4 linked regions of the Homo sapiens genome follow. The protein of the gene in region 2 interacts with the protein of the main gene of each other region in a pairwise test. Each region holds a gene or a part of one and is shown on either strand. Other genes may lie near its edges.

Region 1 (7,400 bases), on a different chromosome or scaffold from region 2:
GATAACTCCTTACATTTATTTTTCTCATTTATTGGGTGATGAGTGAAAAAATTCATCAGGAAATAGACAATTACTGTTCTGACCTGTGATTGGGAACTTTTGTTTTAACTTTAAGCTTTTCCCCCTTAACTTTGTAGTTTGAAAATTTCAAACCTACAGAAAAGTTGTAAAATTATTACAATGAACACCCATATACCTTGTTTTGACAGTCATCCTATAATTTGCATTATTGATTTATCTCTCTATATACATTTGGTTGTTGCTGTTGTTCAATCACTTGAGAACTTAATGAATTTTTAAAGTGGAAGGACACTACTCAAATATTTAAAACCCTAAAATATTTAAGACCTTTTCTGAGAATAATTTTCAAGATAAAGACTGTGATTGAAGGCAAATGGTTACATGTAATTTCTAAAAGATAACCTCTTTTCTGGATATTTCAGAGGACCAGAACTGGAGATATTACAGACTCCTTTCAATAGACTTCAGATTCCCACTTCTTTTCTGTCTTAGAACCGCTGCTGAGAGAGGTTCTCAAATGGTTATCCTGATCTGAACACCCCCACCAAAGCAAACCTATTTTAGATATGTTAATGCAAACACAAATTAGAAGTTTTAGCCTGGGCAACACGGTGAAAACCCATCTTTACAAATAAACAAATTAGCCGGGCATGGTGGTGGACACCTTTATGTAGTCCGAGCTACTCGGGTGGCTGAGGTGGGAGGATCGCTTGAGCCAGACAGGCAGAGGTTGCAGTGAGCCAAGATGGTGCCACTGCACTCCAGCCTGGGCACAGAGCCAGACCCTGTCTCAAAAAGGAAGAAAAAAAAAAAGTAAATTTTTTACAGTGCTATTTCTGTTTGGATAATTCAGTTTGATTATGACATTAACAATGTCATCATCCTGCTGGCAAATCAGCAAAAGATGCAGTTCTCTAACAGAATGCTTACAATATAAGAAGCAAGGAAAGACAAGATGGCCTACTCTAGAATTTAGAATCTGAAGCACTTGCTTCATCCCTGGAAGCAGCAATTCACATAGAACTGACACATAGGTTCAAGTCCTCTAATGTTAAAAAGCGTAATATTTAGAAGATCCTTTGGGATAGGATTTGTTACTCTACCTAGACTAGGTCAGGAAGGTTAAGCCAGATTCCAGTGCTCCATGGTTCTGCTCAGTTGCAGATAGGATTCAGACTTATGTATGCGTAATGCTCAGTTACTGCTATTTTACTGTTTTCCATTCACTAACCAAACCATTGAGCTTATTGAAAGCTGCTTTCTTTGGAGTTTCATTTCTGTAGAATGTAAGGATGTAATTTCTTTCTTCACTAATAGGACAAGCGGCACAAGGTATATGAGATGAGAAGGGGTCTCCAAGATTTAGTCTTATACTTAGTGCATCTAGTGGTAGATTGCAATACTGCTCATCAGATATTCCAGATTTTGTCTCTGCAGTGCTCCTCCTTGAGTGATTTGGGGATTTATTATGTAGTATAACTTAAAATATTCTGCCAGATACAAGGCAAGAAATGCTACACTAAAATTTTGATAAAGTTGAAAGGATAGTTTGCTTGTTAATTGGAATGGCTTCCCCCAAAACCCAAACTTTAATCTAAGTCAGACTTCCTTTATTTCTTTTATAAACGTTCAGCTTCAAAACAGTTATAGATGTGGCTGGGCGCGGTGGCTTACGCCTGTAATCCCAGTACTTTGGGAGGCCGAGGCAGGCAGATCACAAGGTCAGGAGATTGAGATCATCCTGGCCAACATGGTGAAACTCCAGCTCTACTAAAAATACAAAAATTAGCTGGGCATGGTGGCGCATGCCTGTCATCTCAGCTACTTAGGAGGCTGAGGCAGGAGACTCGCTTGAACCAGGGAGTCGGAGGTTGCAGTGAGCCAGGATCTAGCCAGTGCACTCCAGCCTGGTGTCAGAGTGAGACTCCATCCAAAAAAAAAAAAAGTTACAGATTTACAGAATTATTACATAGTGTGCTCATATTCCTCACACCCAGTTTCCCCTATTAGGAAATTAGTCCCTATGATATTTTTACATGTTCTTTCTTTCCTGTGAATATTACAAGTCTTGTTCATTATTATATATTTAAGTGCCAGCCATTTTGCTATTACTAATTGTAGGTTGGTATTCTTCAATAGTTTTGGAAAGAATACACGAGAAAATCAAAAGACATAGGGAGTGCCTTTCTATCTTCCCATAAAAATCATCAGGATCTTTTTTTTTTTCAGTCAAAAGGAAGTCTCCTAGACTTTATGTGAACAATCCTCTTACTGACCACCCTATAGCCATCACTGAAAATAGCTTTCTCTATATCACCGAAGCTTTAAAACTCACAACAATCTTTTATTTTTGCCTCCTGTTCGATAACTATGAAGTTTTTATTTATATCTTAATCCAAATATATCCCTTTTTTCTTTTTTATCATTCCCATTATGACTTCTATGACGTTTAAAATGTTATGGCCGGGCACAGTGGCTTACGCCTGTAATCCCAGCACTTTGGGAGGCCGAGGTGGGCAGATCGCTTGAGGCCAGGAGTTCAAGACCAGCCTGGCCAACATGGTGAAAACCCATCTCTACTGAAAAATACAGAAATTAACCGGGCGTGGTGGCGTGCGCCTGTGATCCCAGTTACTTGGGAGGCTGAGGCAGGAGAATCGCTTGAACTCAGGAGACGGAGGTTGCAGTGAGCCGAGATGGCACCACTGTATTCCAGCCTGGGCAACAGAGCGAGACTCTGTCTCAAAATAAAGTAAAATATAAATTAAATTTAAAAAACAAAATAAAATGTACGTTTCTTTTTAATTATACAAACACAGAGGTGGTGTATTAGTCTGCTTGGCTGATACAACAAAATACCATAGACTGAGGTGGCTATAACAACAGACATTTACTTCTCTCAATTCTGGAGGCTAAGTCCCAGATAAAGATGGGGCAGTTTGGGTTCCAGGTGAAAGCCCCTTCTTGCTCTGTCCTCACATGGCACACAGAGGAGAACAAGCTCTTCGTTGTTTTTTCTCATAAGGGCACTAATCTCGCCATGGGCGACCCACCAAGGTGACCTCATCTAAATTGAATTACCTCCCAAAGGCTCCATCTCCAAATACCAACATATTGGGGTGGGGTAGGGCTTTAACATATGGATTGGGGGAGGAGGGAAATAGTTCAGTCCACAGCTGGTGGCAATGCCCAAGCTCAACGGAAGATTAAAGTACTGAATTAGGGAGAACTGTGAGATGAGGTTAGAAAGACTAATCATACGGAGGTCATCAAGTGCCAAACTAAAGAGCCACTGGGCTTTTTAGATCATAAATCCGGGGGTTGCTTATGGGATGGATTTTGTTAGAGATCACGAGTAGGAAAACCATTTGGGGGAGTAATGTAACAATCCCTGAGGGAAAAATAAAAACTAACACTATGATGACAACCCTCGAATGCACCACCACCAGGAAGCCTTTCCTGATGCTTCGCCAGAGAGGTTCTCTTTAAACGCGAATTTTTCTTGAGTTATCCTAGAAATGTAAGTTACACCTCACATTTCGCCTTCTTTCGTACATGTTCCTGTGCGTTTCCTAATCCTTCCACTTTGTAGTTCCTCCAGCACCGGTTGTGTCCGAGGGCCCTTCTGGCGGAGCCACACTCGCTCGGCCCAAGGTCCCGCCCTCCAGCATCAGGATGCACGGACAGTATTTGTGGACTTGACCGCATCCCAGGAAATCCAGCGGGCCTGGCCACTTCTGGGCGCCAGGACCACAGCCGGCCACCCCACGGACGCCTGGGACGCTCTTCTGGGCCCCCTTCGGGGCTGGGCGTCGGGCTCGCAACAACTGCGACCAACTGGCTCCGCGAGGCCTGGGGCGCAGGGGTGGGGCTCACGTCGTGGGACGGTTGCATGGATTATTTTCGATTGATTTCCGAACCTTCAGGAAGCAGACACGCTCCCCTTCCTTCTTAGGGATGGGGCGGCAGCCAACGAAAGCCCGAAGCCGCCTCCTTTTCTGAGTGGGGAGCTTAGAGATGCTCAGGAGGGACCTCCCCGATTCTGCGATTCTGAGCATCAATTTTGGCAGGAGGCTAGATAGAAGTAGCAATTGACATTCATCACCCTAAAGTGCGGATTATGTCAGTACAGATGCTACGATAGAAGAACTAAAAAATGACAGAAATGGTTTTACTGTTTTTAAACTCTGGGAGCCTACTCCTTTAAGAGATTAGGCAGTACGCCTATTCTCGCCTGGTCCCAGCGTACCTTGCGCGGCTCGCCGTCCCCCACTCACGTACCAGGGCTCATTGCGTGACGGTTACACTTCCGGCGGGCTACGTGCGCGCGGCGAGCGCCGGGCGTACTTTTGCGTGGTTGCTCCACCCCCTCAGCCTTGCCTTCGCCGCCGTTGGGGCTGGAAGTTCCCGCCAGGTCCGTGCCGGGCGAGAGAGATGCTGCCCGGCCCGCCTCGGCTTTGAGGCGAGAGAAGTGTCCCAGACCCATTTCGCCTTGCTGACGGCGTCGAGCCCTGGCCAGACATGTCCACAGGGTTCTCCTTCGGGTCCGGGACTCTGGGCTCCACCACCGTGGCCGCCGGCGGGACCAGCACAGGCGGCGTTTTCTCCTTCGGAACGGGAGCGTCTAGGTAACCGCACTTTCTCGCCTTCCTGGGCCGGATTCACCCCCACCCCCACCCCCGCAAAGCTCCCTTGGTGTCCCCATCCTGTCTCTTCCCTCTGGCTTCCTTCCCAGTGGGGCTGGAGAGAAGCACTTAATCTAGCCGCCCGGCGTCGTAGGCCTCTCGCCGCGGTACCCGGGCCCAGCGCGGCCTGGTGAAGTGGAGGGCGGGATGGGTTCTGTGCTGTGAGGTTTCCAGAATCCACGTATAGTTCAGGCATTATTTGGACCTAGTGGGGTCTTGACTGCGTGGAAGGGCCTTGGGGTCTACCCCGGAGCTTTAGCGATGTGTCAGTCTTAGGCATAGAATGAACATTGAATGAATGAATGAAATTATAGCATACTGTGGAGTTTTATGATAGATAATTCCGATTTCATTGCAGCATTTGCGGTTTTGGATATGACGGTGTTTTAATAACTTTGTGGTTTTTAACCAGCTTTTCAAGCTTTTGTGCCACATGGGACCTTATCTGTTTTTGTTAAAAAAAACAAAAACACTTTTTTACAGTGTTTATTAGTGGTAATTTTCTGCAGTATGTGCAGATTAGTATATCTGATGCGAGAATGTTGTGTTGTAATAACTCAATTTGTCTTTTACTTAAATTACAAAACGTAGGTAGCATGTTCCTTGTTTTTGTGCAACCCATTAGTTCAGGTGGCGACAAAAACATAACTATCCAGAAAGAAACAAAGTGGTGAGACATTTTAATGAGAGATTTAAGCTTTAGAACTCAATTTTTTTTAAGATAAAGGTGGAGGGGTTCATAAAGTTAAGGAGTGTGCACACTGTCAACAAGATACTTCCTGAAGCTTAAAAGATGTGGCTGTAGATTTAAAAGGCAAATACTTAAGCATGACCTGCAGTTTAAAAAGGGAGGGAGGAGGAACCACGGACTACACAGTCAATTCAGAAATTTGAATTTTCATCCATACCTCCGTTATTCTTACTCTACTCGCTCAACAACAGGTTCTGATAATGTTACTTCTGCCATTTCTGTTTGTCTTTATTTCCAGTTCCACAACCCTGCTTAGGCTATTGTCATTCGTGGAACAAATATTTATTGGACAGATTCCCATGTGCAAGGCTCTGTTTTAGGTATTAAGAGTCTTGCTCTCTTGATCCTTACATTCTTATGAAAATAATTTTGATTCTTGTCAGATTTTTAACCAGCTGTCTTTCTTGTTTTAGATGAAAACTACTCCAATCAACTTCTTCAATCTGTTCTGCCACATTTTAGCCAGAGTAATTGAAAAACAAAATTCCCATTGCTCTCTCTTTAATCATTACCCGCCATCGTTAGAATGAAGTTTAAAAAAGAAAAAAAAACTTACCATAGTCTGCAAGGTCCACTTCTGCTGGAACCTCTGGGGACTCATCTTGAGCGGGACTCATCTTGAGCCCATCTTTTTATTTTAGCTATGCAGACCCACTGTTAAAAACAAACACACAACTACCACCCTAAATAACTGAAATGAAGTTTCAGAGAAAGATACCCTTACTTCATGGGATGCACTTTGATATTTTCTATTTCTTTTTTTTTTTAATGTTGCTTATGACTTGATGAATTAATTTTTATATTTCTCTCATGGTCCTGATCTTAGAAAGCCTGTCCTAGCAACATGGCCTTTTCTCTTTTCAAGTGGGCTTTGCCAGCCCCTTCCTTGCAAATATCAAATGGTCTCTTCCCCAGAGAGGCCTTTTCTGACCTGTCAGTCTAGGGGAGATTTCCATTCTCCTAGTACTCTTAGAGTGCTGATCACAATTGTAATCAGTTTGTTATATTTATTGTTAACTTGTTTGTTGTCAGATCTCAGCACTAGAATAATTAATACCTATGTCTCTCACTGACTAGAAACTGCCTGAGGGCAAGGTCTGAGTCTTAATTTCCCACCTCATTGTCAGTCCCAAGGACAGTGCCTGGCATAGAAAAAGGGCTTTAATAACAATTTGAATGACTGAGCAAATGAGTTATTAGTAATAAGCTATAAAAAATTACCCAAGTTTTAGAGAGGCTTGGATAAATTAATGAAAGAGGAGACTGTCCGACATAAATTTGTTAGAGTGCTGGTTGGGAGGCCTGACAGCCCCTAGTGCCACCTAGTGATTTGATGTCTTGAGGTTGGTCATTTTAGGGGAGTTCTCACATCTGGAAAAGGAGTATAATATATTACCTGAGTTGATGAGTGAGATGAAGTATTTAAATATTTAGCATCAAGTCTGGCACTTGCTAAGTGCTCAGTAAATCTTAGCTATTATGTTAGCTACCAAGTCTGCATTAGGGCAAGCTGGGCAAGTTAAAATAACATTCCAGATGTGATTGAGTCAAGTTGGCTTTTCTACAGTACATCCTATCAAGTCCTTGGCAGATAACATTGGTTTGAGGCAATAATTGGTCAAGTTTAGGGTAGCTTTTGCTTTTCTTGAATTTAGTAAATTTCACTGCCACCAAAATTTCTCTCTTGCTTTTGTGGTAGAGAAAAATTTCATTTTGATGTGTTTCTTTGGCAGTATTTTCAACTTTCATTATGTAATACTTCATAATGTCTTCAGTTATGTTGTCAAGATTATATATATATATATATATATATATATATATATATATATGTATTTTTTTTTTTTTTTAAGACAGTCTCACTCTTGTTACCCAGCCTGGAGTGCAATGGCGTGATCTTGGCTCATTGCAACCTCCACCTTACGGGTTCAAGCAATTCTCCTGCC
Region 2 (7,536 bases):
TAACTAAATTAGTAGCTGACATGGATCTAAATATATCTAGTCTTTTATTACTGAGATAATAACTAGGCCAGGGTTAAGATAATCAATATGTATTCATTATTTATTATGGCTATATTAATGACCACTGTAAGTCAGACACTATGAACACAAAGTTAGATAAGGAACAATTCCTATCCTCAAGGAGCTCAGTCCTGTATGAGGGACAGAGATGTAAACAAATAAAATGTAATCATGCTATAACAAATATATGTAAAAAACTTATGAAAGCAGAAACCACGTTTCTTGTTCACTACTAATACATGCGAGAACATAGCAGATACTCAATAAATATTTCATGTTGGTCACCAAGTCGGCTTGAGAGAAAAATCAGAACGCATTCACAGGAAAGAGGCTACTTGAGCTAGGTCTTAAAGAAAATTGTAGTTCAGGCCAGGCGCAGTGGCTCACGCCTGTAATCCCAGCACTCTGAGAGGCCGAGACGGGCAGACTGCTTGAGCTCGGAGATCAAGACCAGCCTCCAGCAACATGGCGAAACCCTGTCTCTACAAAAAAATTTAAAAAAATTAGGCATGGTGACACACGCCTGTAGTCCCAGCTACTCAGGAGGCTGAGGTAGGAAAATGGCTTGAGCCCAGGAGGCAGAGGTTTTGCAGTGAGCCAAGATCGTGCCTAATTATTATCTCAGCCTGTGTGACAGAGACTCTGTCTCAAAAAAAAAAAAAAACCAAAAAACTGTAGTTCAGCAGACGGGTAATGAGGACACCACCTTAGAAGCAACTCCACCTTTTCTTTTTTTTGAGATGGAGTCTCATTCTGTCGCCGGGGCTGGAGTGCAAAGGCGCGATCTCGGCTCACTGCAACCTCCGCGTTCCGGGTTCAAGCGATTCTCCTGCCTCAGCCTCCCGAGTAGCTGGGATTACAGGCACCTCCCACTACGACCAACTAATTTTTCGTACTTTTTTTTTTTTTTTTTTGAGACGGAGCCTCGCTCTGTTGCCCAGGCTGGAGTGCAGTGGCACGATCTCGGCTCACTGCAAGCTCCGCCTCCTGGGTTCACGCCATTCTCCTGCCTCAGCCTCCCAAGTAGTGGGGACTACTGACGCCCGGCTAATTTTTTGTATTTTTAGTAGAGACGGGGTTTCACCGTGTACTTTATTAGAGTCAGGGTTTCACCATGTTGGCCAGGCTGGTCTCAAACTCATGGCCTCGTGATCCCCCCGCCTCGGCCTCCCAAAGTGCTGGGATTACAGGCGTGAGCCACCACACCCAGCCGCAACTCCACCTTCTGTATCAGTACGCTCTTTATTCAATTACGGCCAGCTGTCTTAAACTTCTGACGATCACAGTAGATACTGTGGTGGTTTTCAAATATATCCACAAATAACCTGAGACTCCTCCCTCCAAAGGGTGGGACATAACTTCCTTCCTCTTCAATGTGAGACAGTTTTTAAAACTGCCTCCCTTCTAACAAACACAATGTGACAAAAATGACAGTGTCTGATGTCTGAGATTAGGACATAGAGATTGTGGTTTCCTCCTTGCTCTCTTGCACTCTCTCTCTCTGAAGGAGGCCAGATGCCACACCAAAGGACATCCAAGCAGCACAAGAAGTTCATGTGGACAGGAACAGAGAGCTGGTTGCAGGCAAAAGGCCTAAACTATCAACAGCTGTAGATCCTTCAGCCCCAATCAAGGCTTCAGGTGATTGCAAATAGGAATCAACCAGCTAAGCCCTTCCCAGATTCCTTAATCACAGAAACGTAAGGTACAGGATAGTGGATAGACAGGGACAAAAGGAAGAGGATTTTGTTTTGTGTTTGTTTTGAATTGAGGAATAACTTGTCCAAGTTAATATGCTGAGAAAAGGGGACTGTGAAAATATGTGTATATAGATATGCGAGATTCACTAATAGATACAAGCTCCCACTCTGTGCTAAGTGTTACAGTTAAAACAAAGATACCGTCCCTGTCTTCAAGTCTAGTAGAGGAAACAAATACACACTAAATGAAAATATATTTTAGCATATAACAGATGAGTAAATATTATCAGGTACACAATTCTTGAGTATGTGACATGTCAAATATTAATTAATGTTTACTGTTTCTTGTGTTTAAGTCATGTTTACCTGATTACTAATATTTCTCTTAATGGGACATAAAAGTGAAGGCCTTTGTAATCCAGACTTTTAGGGTACATCTAGCGCCATCACAAAACCTCCAGCTAAAGTTTCACATTAAATTCTTAGGGACTGTTTTCTTGCGCATAACCATGGCTAAATAATTTTGTTCTCTCCCCTTCTTCAACTTACATTGCAGAGAACTTACATTTAAAGGCCAACATCACGGGTGAAGATGAATTAACATCCTTCCCTTCTCTTCTTTGGTTATGTGGGAAATTGTCATGCTTCCTTTTCCTGAACCCTCCTGATCCTTATATAGAGAAGAAAAAAAGAGAGGGATCTTCCATCACCAAGAGTTTGCAAAACACAACATAGACAAACCTACTCCTTGCTTTAAAACCAGATACCCACAGGGCCCTCGCCTTAGAGGCTTTCTCCGCAGACTGACAGAGACGCTGCCCAGGCCTTTCCAAGCAAATCATCCAAGTTTCCACCAACTGGTGCTATGATCTGGCATTACAGCAATTACTGAACTAGGATAAAATCACACCTCAAAAATTTAAGAAAAAAGGAGGTGTAAACAGGGCCGATCTGGCCGGGGAGAGAAACAGAGGGGCCGCCCCCGAGTCTACAAGGGACGAAGGCATCCTTCAAGGGTGAAAAGGGGAAAACTGCATAGAAAGACTGGAGAACCTCCCCCTCCGGATAAATAACGCCCCGTGTTGTTAAGGACGCCACCTTCTTTGTTGCTCATGTCGTCACAGCCTACGGTGAGACGAGCGGAGACTGAAGGACCTGGAGCAAGAGGAGTGCGCGAGGTACAGGCCGAGGGAACCTGGGAAAACAGCCTGCAGAAAAACGCTTTGCAGCCGGGCCGACTACAACGCAGTGGCCGGAAGTCTCCTCTCACGTACTTCCGGCCTGCGTCCGGAGGGGAGGGGAGGCCGTCGCCGCTGGCTCCGCCCACCGCGTGGTCCAAGGACCACCACCCGCCACCGCCGCGCGAGCGTACTATTGCGGCCGCCCTCTGCTGCGCCTGAAGAGAGAGGCGACTCTACAAGCCTCACAGCATGCACTGTTACTAAAAAGACGATGCGTCCTCCTGGACCTGAGATCTGTGTGATCGTGGGAAAGCGACGAAAAACGTACGTAATTTTTTTCTGAAGGCACCTTCGGGACACCTTACCCTTCCCTCAGGGGGGCCCAGCTTCGCGCGCGGTGCTGTGGGGGTTGTAGTTCCTCCGCCGGAGCGGGACCTCCGGTGCCCCGGGCCAGGGATGTGAGAAAGAAGCGAGCCCTCGAGTTTCCTCGGGGCATGTGGGAAGGTTTTTTTCAGGATCCAGGCAGAACCTTACAGAGCTGGGAGTTTTTTAACTTTCCATTCCTGGCAGTGACGCCAGGAGCTTTAAGTGATGGAAATATGCGAGTCAATCAGTGGATGGTGTTAGTACTGTTTTCTCTTATGAAGATCAAGCCTGCCCTTCGGGTCTACTTCCACCTTTTCCCCCTGCCCGTCTCCCACCGTCTCCCTCCTCTCCACTGGCTCTCAGAAGCCGGACAGCCTGTGTTCAACTTGCCTCCACGGAGTGGTTGTGTGACCTTGATGAAGCACGCAACTTCTCTGCCTCAGTTTCCTTATCTGTAACATAGGGATAGAATAGTACCCGCCTTGTAGGGTTATTTGAGGATGAAAGGAGTTAAGTCTCGTGAAAACGCTCTTTCACATATAACTGCTCAATTAAATATTAAATACCATACTCCTCTCCCACCAGGGCTCTCCCAAACAAAATGATAGACAGGTGAGTAATAGCAGCTGTGTTCCACTAAACTGTGGGCATTTCATTATGAGCAGGTGCTGCCACCATATCTAGACTTTGTGCCGCCCCTTAGCCCCAGTGCTTCTCAGCGCTGTGATCCGGTCCCATGTAAGCTTCCGTCAATGTTTGTTGAAGAATCATGTTCCTGGTGTCAGAATAGGTAACTAGATGGCAATTCAGCACCGTCTAGAGAGAAACTCAGGCCAAGGCTTCATAACTGGGGTGCCCTAGGCCTAGTACAGAAAACACAAGTACATTTTAAGCTTTCTCTAAATAACCTCTCTATTGTGGTCATGTGTTGAACACACAGTCTTTTCTCCTTGTTAATTTAGGAACAAAGGAACAGTAAATGGAGTAACTTGGCTAGAATATGGCAGTAACTACAAGGCATGTTCTGCTCTGGCACGAAGGTAACCACCACTCATACCTCTCCAGCCCTGTGAATACGTCAATTGACTAAGCAGATTCCTTGAGGATAAAGTAGGCTCCTGGGGACCTTGCTTGTTGGGCTACTTGCTTTGTGGATGTTAAACAGATAATTCTCATGAGTTTGAGTGACGTCTGATCTACCAGTATTCCCCCTACTCTGATTAGAAATGACTTGACCATGCCAAAAAGAATAAAAGACAGCTCTGATACAAATGTAGCCATTTTAATGTGACTCCCTCTAGATCCAAGGAAGCCAGTACTTACGAACATTTTCAGAGTCAATACTTACTGTACTGTACCATAGTCGAGGAAAAGGGTATTTTTCCTAACTCTCCTGGAGTAGCACATCCCAAGATCTCAACTTTCCAAAACCTGGATCAACTATATTTCTTTTCTTTCTCCAGCCACCACTCCCCTAGCCTGTTCAACTACAGCTATGTTACCTGAACTGCTTTCCACTCTTTCCCATAAATGTAATGATTAGAACACTAAGTTTCATAACCTGTAATGACTTCTGAAAGTATTTAAGGGAGGTGAATCCCAGGAGCACTTTCCCAGCACTTATTTGCATATGCATTTACCCCAGGCCTCCCCAGGTGTTCCAACTTGTAGCTACTCCTTTGTCAGGAAATAGATTTCAACTTCTGTAACAACCTGCATCCCTACCTGGTCTCCTTGTTTTATTGCTTCAGATGCAAACACATAGTTTTGGTACTTGGCAAAACAGTTTTTTGTTTGTTTTTTAAAGGAAGACAACCACCCCAAGTCAGGGAGAGGAAGGTAAAGATTTTTAGTAGGATCTTACCTCTGATGTTGTTTTTACTTGTTATTGTTGCTTTTTTTTTTTTTTTTTTTTGACACGGTTTCACTGTCACCCAGGCTGCAGTCCACGGCTCACTCACTACAGCCTCGACCTCCTCGGGCTCAAGTGATCCTCCCACCTCAGCCTCCCAGGTTGTTGGGACTACAGGCACATGCTACTATGCACGGCTAATTTTTTTTTTCTCTCCATTTTGTGGAGACGGGGTTTCGCCATGTTGCCCAGGCTGGTCTCAAACTCCTGGGCTCAAGTGATCCACCTGCCTAGGCCTCCCAAAGTGCTGGGATTACAGTGAGCCACTGTGCCTGGCCCCCTGTTGCATTCTAATTGCCTATATTTGACTCTGAATGAAGCACTAAGCCTTTCAATTGCATGGTGGTTATTCAGTTCATAAATCCTCTCATTGGTCACCATTAGATTAAGAGAAAAATCGCATATCAAAACTGGTTTGGGAGGCCAAGGCGCGCAGATCATTTGAGGTCAGGAGTTCGAGACCAGCCTGGCCAACATGGTGAAACAGTCTCTACTAAAAAATACAAAAATTATCTGGGTGTGGTGGCACGCACCTGTAATCCCCAGAGGCTAAGGCAGAAGAATCTCTTGAACCCAGGGCGGGAGTTTGCAGTAAGCCAAGATAGCGCCACTGACCTCCAGCCTGGGCCACAGAACAAGACTTCACCTCAAAACAAAAACAAAAACAAACAAAAAAAACTGGTTTTGGATATTGAAGGAAAATCATATAATCCAGTAAAGAGAAGATAATTAACAGATTATCTATTTCAGCATTTCCCTTATTTAGTTATTACATAAATAACTAAATCCTGGGGTAGAAGAGATCATGGGGAATTGTAAGAATCTGGAGTTTCTGTTTTTTAAAAGATAACCATAATATTTAAAAGATATCTGTGGGATCCAGAGTGGTATTGTGAAGTGTACACATTACCTTTATTGTGAATAAATTCAAAGATTTATTTTTCAAGCAATGCTAGGATGTAGTAGGAGAAAATGATGTTCCAGTTTTATAACACAAGAAAGAGAAGCTCATATTGAAGAAGTAAAGAGTGATGGGTAAAACCACAATGAGATATCACTTCAAATCCACTAGGATGACTAAATTTAAAAAGAAGACAGAAAATAATAATTGGTGAAGATATGAAGAAATTGGAACCCTGATCAATTGCTGGTAGGAATGTAAAATGGTCCAGCCACTATAGGAGACAATTTGGCAGTTCCTCAAAGAGTTGGACATAGAATTACCATATGACCCAGCAATTCCACTGTTAACTATATACCTTGAACACAAATGTTCATAGCAGCACTACTCACAATAACCAAAAAGTAGAAATAACCCAAATGTCTATCAGTAGATAAATGGATAAACAAAATGATATATCATTTGGCAATAAAAAGGAATGAAGTACTATTCATGCTGCAACATGGATGAAACTTAAAAACATTATGCAGAGTGAAAGGAGTCAGTCACAAAAGACCACTTATTATATGATTCCATTTATATAAAATGTCCAAAATAGGCAAATCTATAGATAGAAAGTAGATTCAAGGTTGCCTAGGGCTAGGGGCCATGTAACAGTGAGGTGGAGGGGTGATAGCTAAAGGATGTAGGGTTTCTTTGTGAGGAGACGGAAATGTTCTAAAATTGACTAGGGTGATGGTTTCACCTATTTGTGAATATACTAAAAATTATTGAATCAGTCAGTTTAAATGATGAGTTACATGTGAATTATACTTCAATGAAGCTATTAAAACAAATTTTTAAAAGTGTTGGGAAACATTCCTTTCAAGTCTTGTAAATATATTGTGTATATATATATATGTAAATTTACTATATACATGTAAATATATAGATAATTCAATGTTATTAGGAAAAAGCATTAAACAATATGGCTTAAGTTTATTTTTATTTTTATTTTTATTTATTTATTTTTTTGAGATGCAGTCTCGCTCTGTCACCCAGGCTGGAGTGCAATGGCACGATCTTGGCTCACTGCAACCTCTGCCTCCCAGGTTCAAGCGATTCTTCTGCCTCAGCCTCCTGAGTAGCTGGGATTACAGGTGTGTGCCACCATGCCCAGCTAATTTTTTTTTTTTTTTGTATTTTTAGTAGATATGGGGTTTCACCATGTTGGCCAGGCTGGTCTTGAACTCCTGACCTTGTGATCTGCCCACCTTAGCCTCCCAAAATGCTGAGATTACAGGTGTGAGCTACTGTGCCTGGCCGGCTTAAGTTTATTTTTAATACTCCATAACAAAAAAGTATGTAAAGTACTTTATAGGTTTGACAATATTTCAACAAATATTTCTGTGCCTGGTTTATGCCTGACAATGTGAT
Region 3 (7,985 bases), on a different chromosome or scaffold from region 2:
CATATTATCATACTAGAATGCAAAGACTTGGCAGTGCAATTTCAGTTTGTACATCAAACAACTCTTGCTACCAAACCATTTATGTTTTAAATGATGGCCATATTATGTTGTCTGAGTTCTGTTTGAGCATGTCTAGTGTGAAGGCATAATTTCCTTTCCAAGGTATGCAATATTTGCATGGTGTCTAACTGTTACACTCACACGTGCATCATTTCATCAAACACGTCTGCCCATGTACTCACTTGCAGTCCTCGCTCTCCAGCAGGCTCCGGTATGTGTTGATCTCACACTCCAGCCGGGCACGCACATCCAGCAGCACCTGGTACTCCTGGTTCTGCCGCTCCAGGTCACTGCGGATCTCCGCCAGCTGGGACTCCACGTTGGTGATCAGGCTCTGCACCTGGGACAGCTGGGAGCTGTAGCGGGCCTCACTCTCTGTCAGCGTGTTTTCCAGAGAGTCTCGCTGTGGTGGAGAAGATTGGGAATGTCAGAGAGCTGCTCCTTCAAAGGGTTTCTTCACAGGATTACAAGGAAGTCACAAGCTCCAAGAGCTAAGGAGAGTGTGTGGCCCCAAGCACATCCCCGGGACTCTGCCTCCCAAGTTCCCGTCGCTCACCAGCAGGTCTGAACAATACACACCAGGTTGTGCTGGGCCTGCAGCTCGATCTCCAGGGCGTTGACTGTGCGTCTCAGCTCGATGATCTCCGCCTGGTAGGACTGCAGCTGCTCTGAGCTGGATACCACCTGCTTGTTCAGCTCCTCGGTCTGAAACACCCAAGGGGAGAAAGGATCAGACCCTGCCTCCGGGGCCCTGGGGGGCCTTGGGTCCTGAGGGGCCACGTGCTTAGATGCCCACCTGCGTGGTGAACCATTGCTCCACTTCCCTGCGGTTGGTTTCCACCAGGGCCTCATACTGACTCCTGGTCTCGTTCAGCACCCGATTCAGGTCCACAGTGGGAGCAGCATCCACCTCCACATTGAGGCGGTCTCCAAGCTGGCAGCGCAGGGTATTGACCTCCTATGGATGCAGAAAATACAAGAGTTACTATGCTCAGCAAAGAATGAACTCTAAGGAATGGCATTGCTTGTTGAAACCCTGTTAGTCTATTTTCTCGGAAAAGAAACTTTGAGTGGAGCAGTTTGTGACAGCTCAAGGCACTCCATGTGGCATAGCCCCCTCCCCACCATCTGCTGTGCCATGGCACTTGGCTTCAGAAAAAAATCCCAAAAGTTTGCTTGGATGCCACTGAAGGATGAACTAATTGATATTCAACTTTCCCAGTTTACAATTGGCTGTGAGGACCTCAGAATGCCAAAAAAAATAGGCTGTGCAATTTCAGACCATATATCAAAAAACTCTTGCTGTCAAGTAAGAGGTAAGAGCATGTCATGGCCCCTCCCAAGAGAGAGGAAGAATCTCACAAACACTCTTCACCAATACTTTGAAAGAGTAGAGACTCACATTTATAAGGTTTGATATTTTTTTTCTTGGCCTTTGCCAAAAAAAAAAAAAAAAGACTTTACAAAGCAATAACACTGCAATGCTAGGACTCATTCTACAACTATTGATCAACTGCAAGCACATGGAGCTGCTCCGGGCAACTCAAATAATGTGCTAGTTTAAAGTGAAAGATGTTTCCTGTCTGGGAACATGAACAGGTCTTATCTCTCTCCAATTTTTCTCTTACCGTGATGTTTTCAAAGGAAACCCTCAGTCTTGTACTCATACTCTGCATTCTGCTGCCCCAAATCACTAAAGCAACCCTGAGCCAGAGGCTGAGACAGGTTTGTGCATTTCTCATTTCTAGTCTCACCTGCTCATGGTTGCTCTTGAGGCAGAGCAGCTCCTCCTTCAGGGACTCCACCTGGGCCTCCAGGTCGGACTTGCACAGGGTCAGCTCATCCAGGATCCTGCGCAGACCGTTGATGTCCGACTCCACCAGCTGCCGCAGGGACAGCTCGGTCTGGTACCTGCGCAAGGACAGGGTCAGAGTACTACCTGGTAGATCTTCAAGACTCACAGGAATGATTTTTGATAACCTCATGTGCCTTATCTTTCCACTTTCTGTAATGAATAGGCCCAGGAGACAGAGGTTTCTGGAGGCTCCATCAATACCCAATATTCATCCCAAAACAAACAGATTGATGTGAGTCCTCATCCATTTTTGCATTTCTTTGCTTGGTTCTCCCCAGTCCTCTGCAGAATCCTTCACAACAAGTGGGTAGATCTGTTTTCAGATGGAAATCCCTTTTCTTTAAAGATTAAACAGAAGCAATTGACACTAGTGCAAATTCCGAACAACTCACTTGGTTCTGAAATCATCCGCAGCCAGCTTGGCGTTGTCGATCTGCACCACAAGCCTGGCATTCTCAGACTTGGTACACAGGATCTGGGGAGTGAGAGGTGGCTTAGTGAGGACTGAAAATAAATATGAAATCATCAACTTTTTAAAAATGACTTAAGCCATTTTGAAATAAAAGAGGAAGCAAGAATTATGACAGCACAGAAGCAAGAAACACACTTCTCTATCACAGACAGAATCACAGCAAACTCTCTTGCTTGGAGATGACAGCAATGCCGCTCACCTTCTGCTGGAGCTCCTCAATGGTCTTAAAATAGGACTGGTAACTGGGGCACAGCAAGGGCTCCTGCTGCTGAGACCGCTCCCGGATGAGGTTCTCCAGCTCCGCGTTGTCCCGCTCCAGCTGACGCACTTTCTCCAGGTAGCTGGCCAGGCGGTCGTTCAGGAACTGCATAGTCTCCTTCTCGCTACCATTGAAGGAGCCCTCGCAGAACCAGTTGCAGTTGCTCACATTGGCGGGGATGTTGCAGGCCCCGGGCAGGGTGCAGCTGTGGCAGCTGGGGGGCACGCAGGGCCGGGAGGAGCAGCTGGTGCGGCAGCTCAGGCTGGGCAGGCAGAAGTTGTAGGGCATAGTGCTGGGAGGGAGGGAGGGAGTGCCTGGCTGAAGACAGAGTCTAAATTCTCCAAGCCACAGAGCTGTGGGTCTCCTTCCTCTAGGGAGCATTTATATCCCACTGCAGAGGGTGTGGACACAGTATGTAATGTCTTTTTTCTTTTTATTTCTTCACTTCTTTTCAAACGCCCTTTCCTTCAGTCTGTTATTTGCCTTCCTCTGAAGAGTCCCTTCTCCCATAAAATTCTTTACTTGGGCTTCTTGCTAAGTCAGGACTCCTCCGCAGACAGTCCACCCATGAAATCAGAGTTCTGTGGTAGGCCTTCAAAGAGGCTACACAGTCCAGCCCAAGTATCTGCCCTCATTAATTGAGGTGTTGATCCATCCGATGACATTCTTTTGTGTCACATAATTCTGCAGGCCCATAAACATACTCATGTCCTGGTCCACCTGCCGTTTCTAGGGAGAAACACGGATTGATTTGAGGAAGAAGTTGCATTAAGAGGCCACAGTGGACTGTCTTTCCCTCTGCATTTAGAGAAGAATCTTCAAATGATGGAGCATTCTGTGCCTTGGAAGCCTTAAGGTGGATGATTAGAATCAATGGAGGACACGACTGAAAAGATTAGACAGCGATTTGTGTTTTACGGGTCCGTGTAATACTTCCCCCCCACCACCACATATTACTTAAGAAAATTGTAGAGGAGAGAATTTTAAAGGTAGAGGCTTTGATAACTAGTTGGAGAACAAGAAGTTTCTGGGGTAAGAGATCGTTTTGAAAGAGGCTGAAAAGTGCAAACCGAGAGAGCCATAAAAAACACATTTAAGGCTGGGCACAATGGCTCACGCCTGTAATCTCAATACTTTGGGAGGCCGAGGCCGGCGGATCACGAGGTCTAGAGATAGAGACCATCCTGGCCAACATAGTGAAACCCATCTCTACTAAAAATACAAAAAAATTAGCTGGGCATGGTGGCACCCACCTGTAGTCCCAGCTACTCGGGAAGCTGAGGCAGGAGAATCACTTGAACCTGGGAGGTGAAGGTTGCAGTAAGCCGAGATGGTGCCACTGCACTCCAGCCTGGTGACAGAGCAAGACTCCATCTCAAAATACAAAACAAAACAAAAAAAATGCATTTAAATAATCTAGGAAAGATATTCAGGGGCAGAGAGAAAGGAATAAGGAGGTCTTTGTCAAACATTTCCTAAGGTTATCCATAGTATCCGAACAGAGTAGATGGATATGTTAGGAAAGTCAGGAGATAGCCCAAAGGGGCCTCCACGGCCTGAAATCACTTGTAGTTGATCTTTAAACTTCATATGAATTGACCCTATATTCCATAATATATCCATGTTGGCTTTAATCTTTATATATATATATATATATATATTTTTTTTTTTTTTTCAGATGGAGTCTTGCTCTGTCACCCAGGCTGGAGTGCAGTGGAGCGATCTCGGCTCACTGCAAGCTCCGCCTCCCAGATTCATGCCATTCTCCTGCCTCAGCCTCCTGAGTAGCTAGGACTACAGGTGCCCACCACCACGCCCGGCTAATTTTTTGTATTTTTAGTAGAGATGGAGTTTCACCGTGTTAGCAAGGATGGTCTCAATCTCCTGACCTCGTGATCCACCCGCCTCAGCCTCCCAAAGTGCTGGGATTACAGGCGTGAGCCACCGCGCCCAGCCAGCTTTAATGTTTTTAAAAAGCCCCTTTTAAATTTCCAGTTAAACTTTCAAATACTTTGCTTAATTCTCTAAGAGAAATGGATACATCAGGAAGATGTACCATATTCTGTCCTGGGCTTCCCATCTCCAGCCCGAGTGGAGATGCCACCTGCTTTAAGAACCAAAGGTCTAAAGGTACCAAAGGAGGTCTCTGTGGTTGTGTAATTAAATCCAAGGACCTGGGCACCAGGAAAGAAAATGCTGAGCACGGCATGAGCAAGGGGGTTTTGCAAGGCAAGCTGGAGTCATTTGGGGTTGCTTTGGGAGGTGAAGGAAGGCACTAGAAGATCTGAGGAAGAGGTAGCCAAAGTTCTGAATATATAAAAGTTGCAGCACCCCCATCTCCACTGTGGCTTTGGCTGCCAGCCAGAGCTGCCGTTTTATTGACAATTTATTGGAGTGCTTCTCCCATTGAGCTTTCATGATGGTATTCATGTTGCACTCTGCTTGAGTCTCAGATAAAAGGTCCTTCATCTACACTCCCCAAGACCATTATCACTGCTTATTATAATGCCATTCAGATGAAAAGCCCCACAGCACTACAAAGAAGATCTAGACTTATAATAAAATCAATACTTTCGTTTCCTTACAAGACAATTAAAGGGGGAGAAATAGGCGGGTCTACAGACTGTTACTCCTGAGACTCTCCAGAGGAAGGACGCAAGGCTAGGTGGCAGCTGTCTGTGGGGAGCTTCTGTCTCATTTCATCTGGGCTTGGGATGAATGGAAAGGCTCGTGCATCTGATTGATGAGCACTAGCTTGTAGATGACAGCATAGGCCTTCTGCTTCCTAACTCTTGTCAGCCTGCTCCAAGCACTGGCTTTCCAGCAAGCAGCTATTTCCTCAGCCCTTTCTTCTTCCCCAGTCAGGCAGGCTTTAACCTAAGCCCAAACTAAATGCCAGCAGTATTCTCCAAGCTCTTGATTCCTATCTACTGATTGGCTGGCATAGCCTCATGGAGACTGTAGTCAAAGAAGAGTGTTTAGGCTCTAAGTATGAGAAGATTCAAGGATTGTATTGACAAGAGAGCAAACATAGAATTTTTGTACAATGCAGAGAGATCAGAGAAATGGAAAGAGACGGAGACCAGGAGAGACAACAAGAAAAAGAAGAGACAAGGAAAAAAGTTGGGAGGAATCCTCAGCATCATGCAGCAAATCAGACAAAGTTAGCCCAGCTTCCGAGGGGCTAACCTGGAAAATGCAAAGCTGAGAAGAAGCCAAGACAAAATAAGCCAATAGACTGAGGAGTGGCCCACCGTGCTGAGTGTCCTGCAAGGCGTAAATGGAGTTGACTCATAAAAGATCTATGGACACAGGACTACAGCTTCTGAGGCCTCTGAAAGAAGTGACATTGTTCCAAGCTGTCCAGACCGAAGCATCACCTCTGTGATCAAGCTTGAGATTGTTTGTGGCTGAGAAATATACTGCCATCTACACACAGGCAGTGTAAAGTCTAAAAGGAGCGACACTGCCTGTTCCTGAAGGAATAAGAAGTGGGAAGAGAAGAAAGGAGAAATGAAGCAGGGAGAGTCAGTCCTGCACTGGCTGCAGGTCATGGCCAGTCAGCAGCCACACAGAAGATGTAGGAGAGAACAAGAAACCCCTGTTATCTTCTGGTTACTCCTAGATATTCCTTTTTCTACCTGCTGGTTGCCCTGCAGAATGTGAAATGGCACAAGAATTCAAGATGGGGACCACAGACAGACTAGCTGGTGAGTAAACACAATGCTGCCATCTCTTGTGAATCTAGCCTCTTTCTTGCAGTGTTTTCAAGATCTCAATGGGCTTGAGTGAATTTGCTCCTTGAATTAGTGGGGAAAATGGGACCCCAGGGTTGTAAGATCCCCATGACCTCACACAGGCGAGGGGTAGAATTCATGTATTCTCTTGGTTTCCTAGTTGGAATATTTGCAAATTTTTTTCATTCAAGGAGAAATTGAGCAGTCAATGGGCTATCAAACCCACATTCATTATCCAGTTCAATTTAATTCAGAACACATTGATTAGACAGCTTCTCTATGCTGAGCATATGACTAAACAGAAGAATCATAGTTCTGGTGAAAAAAATGTCTTTTTATGAACAATTCCGGCCAAGATGGGTCCTCAATATGTATGAGAAATAGCCAGAAGTTAAGGAAAGGAGATATTTAGAAGGTGTAAGATGGGCATTTAGAAATATGTTTGTATTCAGTGTAAATAGAAAACGGGTACTGGGTGCAGTGGCTTGCATCTGTAATCTCAGCACTTTGGGAGGCTGAGGTGGGAGAATCACTTGAGCCCATGAGTTCAAGACTAGCCTGGGCAATATAGCAAGACCCCATGTCTACAAAAAAAATTAAAAATGAGTTTCAAAATTAGCCGGACGTGGTGGCACATGCCTGTAATCCCAGACACTTGGGAGGCTGAGGCAGGAAAATCTCTTGAACCCGGGAGGCGGAGGTTGCGGTGAGCGGAGATCACGCCATTGCACTCCAGCCTGGGCAACAAAAGCGAAACTCCATCTAAAAAAATAAAAATAAAATAAAATTTAAAAATGAGCCAGGCTTGGTAGAGCACATTTTAGTTCCAGATGCTCTGGAGGCTGAGGCAGGATGATTGCTTGAGCCCAGGAATTTGAGGTTACAGTGAGCCATGATCACACCTCGGCACTCCAGCCTGGGCGACAGCAAGACCCCATCTAAAAATTAAAAATAAATAAAAAGAAAACTGTACATGTGACATTATGGGCATTAGTCACTTGTTGAACATCTACTGTGTGCTTGGCACAGTCCCAGGGGCAGGGGACATGGTGGGGAGTGGGGGTATGTCATGTCCCTGCCCCCAGGAACTCTGAGTCCTGCTGAGCAGACAGGTCCACAGCTAGCATAATGTAATGTGATTGGGCCTTCCCCCAAAAATATCTCCTTCCCCTACCCACTCCATTTCTTCCTACACCCACCCCTGACCCAAACCCCATTCAGGGCATTCCAATCCAGCTCATGATTTTCAGCCACACGGCGAGGGGATGAAGCCATTTCAGGTTATGCACTTGATCCCAAAGAGTTTTTTGTGCTTCGCTCTCTAAGTGACTCATAAGCAGAATTCAGAGAACTGTTCTCATTAGAATCTTGTTCCCTTTAATAATCTAGTCTTCAGCCAGGCAGGGTAATGAATTGTTTTGGCATCTGGTTCTTGTTGCTTTGGAGACCACAGGAGAGGCGGTGGTGATGGCCCATCGCTTCAGCCCTGTGGCATCCCCACAGGATCCATGGGCATCAAGGTAAGTTTCAAAGCAAATGAAAGAGGCTTTTGCCAGGTGCAGCATAGGAAATCATTCCAGGGATGTGGTGTGGGCAGAAAAA
Region 4 (7,322 bases), on a different chromosome or scaffold from region 2:
GAGGGAAGAAAGGAAGGAAGGAAGGGAGGGAGGGAGGGAGGGAGGGCTGTGGATTTGCCCCAAGCTGTCAGCTGATCATCTTGGCAGCAGAAAGGTTGGGACACTCCAGGGGTTCCCAGTGATGAGCTGAGGTCAGAGATGCATGCAGATGGGGAGGACCCCTGGCACAAAGCAGGCACTCCACAATTGTTTGAAAAACACAAAACAATTAAGTCAGAATCAGAAATGCTCTGCTGACGACACAGTCCCAAACAAATACTGGCTGCCACTATTATCATTAAGCAGGGTCTTGAAGCGTAAGTAACATCTGGAAGCTAACATGACGGAAGCTAACAGAAGTAGACAGGAGGCATTCATTTCAACTTAAAAAACCTGCAGGATGGCCGGGCACGGTGACTCACACCTGTAATCCCAGAATTTTGGGAGGCTGAGGCAGGTGGATCACCTGAGGTCAGGAGTTCAAGACCAGCCCAGCCAATGTGGTGAAACCCCGTCTCTACTAAAAATACGAAAATTAGCTGGGCATGGTGGTGGGTGCCTGTAGTCCCAGCTACTCAGGAGGCTGAGGCAGAAGAATGGCTTGAGCCTGGGAGGTGGAGGCTGCAGTGAGCCAAGATGGCATCATTGCACTCCAGCCTGGGCAACAGACTGAGACTCTGTCTCAAAAAAAAAAAAAAAAAAAAAAAAAAAAAAAAAAACCCCCAAAGCTGCAGGAGCCAAAGTAGTGTGGTGTCCCCACCTGATGTGTTCAGACAGGGTAGAGCACTGGTTCTCAGCAAGAGGCGATTTTGCCCCCCAACCCCTACAGGACACTTAGCAATGTCTGGAGACATTTTTGGTTGTCATAACTAGGGCTAGGGTGCTAACAGTATCTAGTGGGTAGAAGCCAGGGATGCTGCTACACGTCCTGCAATACACAGGACAGCCTCCATAGCAAGGAATTATCATGCTCAAAATGTCACTCAAGCCAAGATGGAGAAACTCTGTGGTAGAGTGGTCATCTCTTACCATTCTTCTACAAGACTGCTCTAACTCCAATACTCCAGTTGTACCAGCCTCCTCACTGTTCCTATCACACTCACAGCACCATTCCTTCTCAGAGCCTTTGTACCTGCTGTTCTCCCTGCTTAAACAACCATCCTCCAATAGTTGCAAAGCTCCCACCCTCTTTTTTCAGATCTCTTTTCAAATATCACCTTATCAACAATGTCTTCTCAAAATATCCTAATAGAAGATAAGTCACCATCCTTTATCTTATTTTTCTCATAGTATTTAACATCACCCAAACATGGTTTACTTGTTTTTTTGGCTTTTTATTTTTTTTTTTTTTTTGAGATGGAGTCTTGCTCTGTTGCCCAGGCAGGAAGGGGCAGTGGCATCAGCTCACTGGAACCTCCACCTCCCAGGTTCAAGCGATTTTCCTGCCTCAGCTTCCCGAGTAGCTGGGATTACAGGTGCACGCCACCACACCTGGCTAATTTTTGTATTTTTAGTAGAGGCAGGGTTTCTGCATGTCGGCCAGGCTGGTCTCAGACTCCTGGCCTCAAGAGATCCGCCCACCTCGGCCTCCCAAAGTGCTGGAATTACAGGCGTGAGCCATCGCACCGGGCCTTATCTGCTTTTCTCTCAAAATGAAAGAACCAAGGGATCCATGAGGGAATTTGTCGATTTTGTTCACTGCTATATCCCCAGTGCCCAGAAGTATGCCACATACTCCAAGTGCCTAATAAACATTTATTGAATGAATGAATAAAACAATGACTGGACATTAGGGAGGAGAACTAACGGGATTTAGAAGAGAGGCAGGACAGAAAAATAGTGCAGTAGTTAAGATGCATGAACTTCAGAATCACGAAGAGGTTCCAGTTTCAGCACCACCACTTGCTAGATGTGTGATTTGGGGGCACAGAACAGCCTCTCTGTGGCTCAGTCTTTTTATTAGTAAAATGAGGATAACGATAATAAAAGAAGGTACCTCCTGGACATCGATGGAAGCACCTGCCACTGAGCCTGACATGCAATCAGGGCCGAACAAATGTTAAGCTCTTGGTGGCATTGGTTTAGTGACCAGCAGAAGGGGGAGGAGTAGGTTTAGATAGCACTGAGGTTTCCTGTACAAGGACTAGAAGCTGGGGAAGAAGCCATTACTCAGGAAAGAGTAGGTATGAGGACTAAGGCAAGGGCGGTACTTCAGCTGCAGAGGTGGCCTAGGACAGGGGTGCACTGCGTGGATTCCGGGGCCAGACCCTGACTGTAAATCCCCACTCCTTCATTCACAAGCTACGTGGCCCTGCGCAAATTACTTGCAGCCCTCTGTGCTTCAGTGCTCTCATCTTTCAACTGGGGATAACAATACCTACCTCTTACGGTTATTGTGATGCTCAGTGATTTAGTTTACCTAAACCACCCAGAACAACGCGTGGCATATAGCAAGTGCTGTATGAAAAACTCTCCGTGCCTTCATTCTCTTACAAAATTAAAATGACCTTCACCTCAGTCTGAAACCCCACAGGCTTCAGCAGAGTAACCCCCAAAGATTTTCAGAGCTCCACCCTTCCTGGCCCCGAAGCAGAGATCTGCTGAGCAAATCCAACCGACAAGCGCCAGGCACAGGTAATGCACTATCGACCCTATGATTCCGGACGAATTCCCAACCCCATCCAATAGCCCACGCTCTACTCAAGAGACGAGAGCTGCCATTCCCGCTCCCTCCTCCCGCAAAACTGTAGAACCCGCCGGTAGAGGCCGGGAGCGCCCCCGAGGAGGGGCCGGGAAGAGGCGGGGCCCGGTTGCGACTCGCCGCCCGGGAGCCTGGGAGACCCAGAGGCTGCGCCCGCGCCCCCTCACCAGTAGCAGCTGCTGTAGACGCAGGCGTCCCGCGGGGGGCTGGCCGGCTGGTAGTGGACAGCAGCGGGGCCATTACCTTCCATGGCCGGCTAGCTGGGCCAGGGCCCGGGCCGGAGGAAGACCGACTGGACCAGACGTAGGAAAGGGCGGGCTTGTAGTGGCCCGCGTGGGTTCCCGGCGTGGGGTGGGCGGAGCCCGGGGGGAGAGGGCCGGGGCAGTTTCCGGGTGGTGGGGCCAGTAGCGCGGTGGGCGGGGCCAGGGCGGGACTAGCAGCACGAGTTCCCGGCGCGGGAAGCCCGGGACGAAGTAGGCGGAGCTCGGGGCAAGCGGCGCCAGTTCCTGGGAGGGTGGAGCCCAAGCGAAGTGGGCGGGTCCGGGGTGGGGTGAGTGGCGCGAACTCCCGGTGGGCGGAGCCCGGGACGAGGAGGACAGCGCGCTTCCGGGTAGGCGGAGCCCGGCTGGTGGGTGGGGCCCGGGATGGGGCGGGACTGGAGGACCGGGCTCTGGTGGGCGGAGTCAGGGGCGGGGCCCCGGTGAGCTTTGGGAGAAGAGGGGTCTCTGGCGGCGGCTTGGGGAGGAGCTAGGTTTGGGCTTGGAGTTGGGCCCTGAATGGCGCTTTGCTGTGAATCTCCGCGGGGAGGCTCTTCCAACCAGGGGCTGAGCTTCTGCGCTGTGGAGAAGCCAGGTGAGACACTGAAATAACAGAGGTTTGGGTGTGAAAATCCACGCTTCTGCACTCAGCCTGGAGTCTGCGGGAGCCCAGAGAAGAGGGGAGTGGAGGTTAATTCCAATATGACCGCATCGAGGACGCTTTCCGAAAGGGATAGCACCCCAAATCTCACTCTATTGTAACTTAATCTTTTAAATTGGAAGGCCTGTAGCTATTGGCTCGAAAAGATATATTAATTCCCTGATACAGTAAATTTGAAAAAAAAAAGTTTAAAGAGTCCATATGGTATCCTTTTTGTGTTAATCATATATTTTGTTCAATTACTGGCAGTCTGGAAGAAAAGACACCATATTGTTAAAATAGTGTTTAGGGCCGGGTGCGGTGGCTCACGCCTGTAATCCCAGCACTTTGGGAGACCGAGGCGGGTGGATCACGAGGTCAGGGGTTCGAGACGAGCCTGGCCAACATGGTGAAACTCCGTCTCTACTAAAAATACAAAAATTAGTTGGGCGTGGAGGCGCGCGCCTGTAATCCCAGATACTCGGGAGGCTGAGGCAAGAGAATCGCCTGAACCCGGGAGGCGGAGGTTGCAGTGAGCCGAGATGGTGCCATTGCACTCCAGCCTGGGCAACAGGGTGAGACTCCGTCTCAAAAAAAAAAAATAGTGTTTATCTCTGGTGAATGAATGATATTAATATCAGGGACTTTCAGTTTCAAGGTCTTTACACTTTACAGTCTTCTGAATTGTTTATATTTGCAATGAGCATAGCTAGCTAATCAGGGTACTTCCCATTATAAAAACTGAGATGTTTACATTGATTTTAGCCATCCACAGTTGGATTCTCCAATCTCTTCAGTCTCAAAGCTGATAAATCCTAAAGACTTGGAGCACAGTTCCTGTGTCAATTACCAATTTTATTGCCTCTCAGCTCCTAATACAAACTTCCACATAGCCTCTATGCTATATAACAACTCTGGTAAACATTTCTCCTTTAAAGTGAGTGGGAAACCCTATAAGCTAGAAGGGATTGGGGCCCTATCTTTAGCCTCCTCAAACAAAACAATTATCAGCCAATAATTTTGTATCCAGCGAAACTAAGCATCATATATTAAGGAAAGATACAGTCTTTTTCAGACAAATGGTGAGAGAATTTGCCACTACCAAGCCACCACTACAGGAACTGCTAAAAGGAGTTCTAAATCTTGAAACAAATCCTGGAAACACATCAAAACAGAACCTCGTTAAAGCATAAATCACACAGGACCTATACAACAAAAATACAATTTAAAAAACAACAAAAAAAAACAAGGTACACAGGCAACAAAGCACGATGAATGGAATGGTACCTCACAAGTCAATCCTAACATTGAATGTAAATGGTCTAAATGCTCCATTTAAAGTGAGTGGGACAGGTGTAGTGGTGAGAACATCCTTGTGGAGTCTGCCCCAGCCCCAGACTCAGAACATGGTCCCTTCCTAACCTTGCAGGTTTAGCCTGGCAATAACCTTTCTTCAGCCTCTTGACACAAAAACCAGGGTCCTCCCTAACCCTACCTTCTATACGGTAAGGTACTGAATAGAGTTTCCTTATGTGTTATCGTTATGCCTTTATCATAGTTAATAATAATTTTTTGGTGGGGGACAGGGTCTCCCTCTGTCACCCAGGCTGGAGTGCAGTGGTGCAATCATAGCTCACTACAGCCTCAAACTCCTGGGCTCAAGTGATCCTCCAGCCTCAGCCTCCTGAGTAGCTGAGACTGCAGGCACGCACCACCGTGCGCAGCTAACATAATTAATAGTTCTTTACATTTAACTTCCCTTGCTTGACCTACTGTGTAGTTTCTTATCCTGATTGGGCACAAACTACTTACTATAGGACTTTGAAGCTAGGCTGGGTAGGTTCTACAACTTGCCAGTTGGGTCACCTTGGGCAAAGTTACTTCACTCTTCTGTGTCTCACTTTCCTCATCTGTAAAATGAAGTTAAAGATAATGCTACTACCTCATAGGGTCATTATGAGGATTAGTTGAGTTTATGTATATAAAGTACTTAGAATAGTTGGTAGCATATAATATAAATGTTAGCAACTATGATTTTTTGTTAAAAAAATCTGATTTCATTATTTCCCGCATACCCTATACTTTTTTTTTTTTTTTTTTTTTTTTTTTTGAGATAAGAGTCTCACTCTGTCGCCCAGGCTGGAGTGCTGTGGTGCAATCTTGACTCACTGCAACCTCCGCCCCCACCACCCCAGCTAAATTGTGTATTTTCTTGTGGAGGTGAGGTTTCACCATGTTGGCCAGGCTGGTCTCAAATTCCTGACCTCAAGTGATCTGCCCGCCTCGGCCACCCTCCCCGCCGCCATACTCTTGTCACTGAGTGTCTTATTCTTCCTTTGATACCCCAAGCCTTTGCACAAGATGTATGTACACTCTGTCTGATGCATTCTTTCACATGCCTTATTTGCAGCTTTTCCCAGGAAGAGTTTATTGTTGGCTTCCATCTTCCTGGAGCTTTTTTTCCTGTTTTGTCACAACTTTTATTCATATGTCTTGAAAAGCAGTAGCATGCTCAGCAACTCAATCTGTCTCTACCTCTGCCATGAGCTCTTCCAGGGCATGGGTCTTGCCCTGAGAGGTAGAATAGTATAAATAGTGCTGTAGTCAGAAACACACTCAAATCTTATCTTGGCTACTTACTACCCTGAGTGACCTTGGATAAGTAACACTAGGATTTCTGAGCGTCAGTTTCTTTGCAAAATGAGGATAATAATAGTAGAGTGCTTATCTAATGGGTGCTGCAGTGAAAATTAAATAAACTAATCTCTGCAAAACACTTAGCATAGTGCCTGGCAGAACATAGGTACTGTCAAAAATAAACATAGCCGTTGACCATCAGTCAAAGCGATGAAAACAGATTTTATTCAGCAACTATTGACAGTAGGGGAAAGAGCTGAGCTCCATTCCAATTGTGCAGAGGTAATTTGGGCATTTGGAAAGAAGAATGAGGAAGCAGGGAGGAGTTGGGGGGGGGGGGGCGCTCATTAGAGCCAGGGAAGTGAAAATTACAAAGGGTTGGTCAGTGTAAATACCATTAGGCCAGTCGTGTCTGCTAGCTGGCAGTTATCTAAGTTAGGATTCTATCCTCCCACAGAGACTGGGAGTCAGAGGCCCTATCCTTCCTGATGATTACATTTCAAAGGAATGGCTCTCTAAGTCCTTGAGAAGGACTTCTGAGTTGTAAGTAATACATATTTACAATTCTAAGCCCTTTTAGTAAATGCTCTAAGAAAAGGAGGTCAGGGGCCTATCATCAGGTACTGGCAACAACAAATAGTAAATTTTCCTGGGAGCTTTGAGCTTTCTTAAGCAGGCATTTTAATGGGGGGTTTGGGGGAGAAGGCTGACATAGCCTTATACTGCTAGAAGCCATGCTAGAGTTTGGTCAAGTCTGTTAGTGCAGGGATTTGGAACCAAGTTGTGCTGAGAGTTCTGCAGTACTCAGTACCCTACGTAATAAACAACTACATAGGCCAGGTGTAGTGGCTCACCCCTGTAATCCTAGAACTTTGGGAGACCAAGGCGGGAGGATCGCTTGAGGTCAGTTTGAGACCAACCTAAGCAACACAGCAAGACCCTGTCTCTACAAAAAAAAAATTTTTTTTAATTAGCCAGGCATGGTGGTATCTGTAGTCCTAGGCACCCAGGAGGCTGAAGCAAAAGAATTGCTTGAGCCCAGGAGTTTGAGGCTGCAGTGAACTGTGATTACGCCACTGCACTCCAGCCTGGGCAACAGAGTGAGACC

The links.
Region 1: the proteins of TSNAX (region 2) and NUP58 interact in binary tests that used the Homo sapiens proteins (3 or more experiments, as listed by UniProt).
Region 3: the proteins of TSNAX (region 2) and KRT31 interact in binary tests that used the Homo sapiens proteins (3 or more experiments, as listed by UniProt).
Region 4: the proteins of TSNAX (region 2) and NTAQ1 interact in binary tests that used the Homo sapiens proteins (3 or more experiments, as listed by UniProt).

The regions. Positions count from the first base shown.
Region 1 is NC_000013.11:25,297,232-25,304,631, forward strand, and holds the start of NUP58 (nucleoporin p58/p45), read left to right. Parts: upstream 1-4,393; 5' UTR 4,394-4,542; coding exon 4,543-4,649; exon of another isoform or gene 4,650-5,777; intron 5,778-5,870; exon of another isoform or gene 5,871-5,924; intron 5,925-7,400. UniProt on the Homo sapiens protein: Component of the nuclear pore complex, a complex required for the trafficking across the nuclear membrane.
Region 2 is NC_000001.11:231,524,149-231,531,684, reverse strand, and holds the start of TSNAX (translin-associated protein X), read right to left. Parts: upstream 3,017-7,536; 5' UTR 2,875-3,016; coding exon 2,859-2,874; intron 2,431-2,858; coding exon 2,326-2,430; intron 1-2,325.
Region 3 is NC_000017.11:41,394,606-41,402,590, forward strand, and holds the start of KRT31 (keratin, type I cuticular Ha1), read right to left. Parts: upstream 3,004-7,985; 5' UTR 2,935-3,003; coding exon 2,587-2,934; intron 2,391-2,586; coding exon 2,308-2,390; intron 1,972-2,307; coding exon 1,815-1,971; intron 1,019-1,814; coding exon 857-1,018; intron 766-856; coding exon 640-765; intron 464-639; coding exon 243-463; intron 1-242.
Region 4 is NC_000008.11:123,412,458-123,419,779, reverse strand, and holds the start of NTAQ1 (protein N-terminal glutamine amidohydrolase), read right to left. Parts: upstream 3,007-7,322; 5' UTR 2,931-3,006; coding exon 2,848-2,930; intron 1-2,847. UniProt on the Homo sapiens protein: Mediates the side-chain deamidation of N-terminal glutamine residues to glutamate, an important step in N-end rule pathway of protein degradation.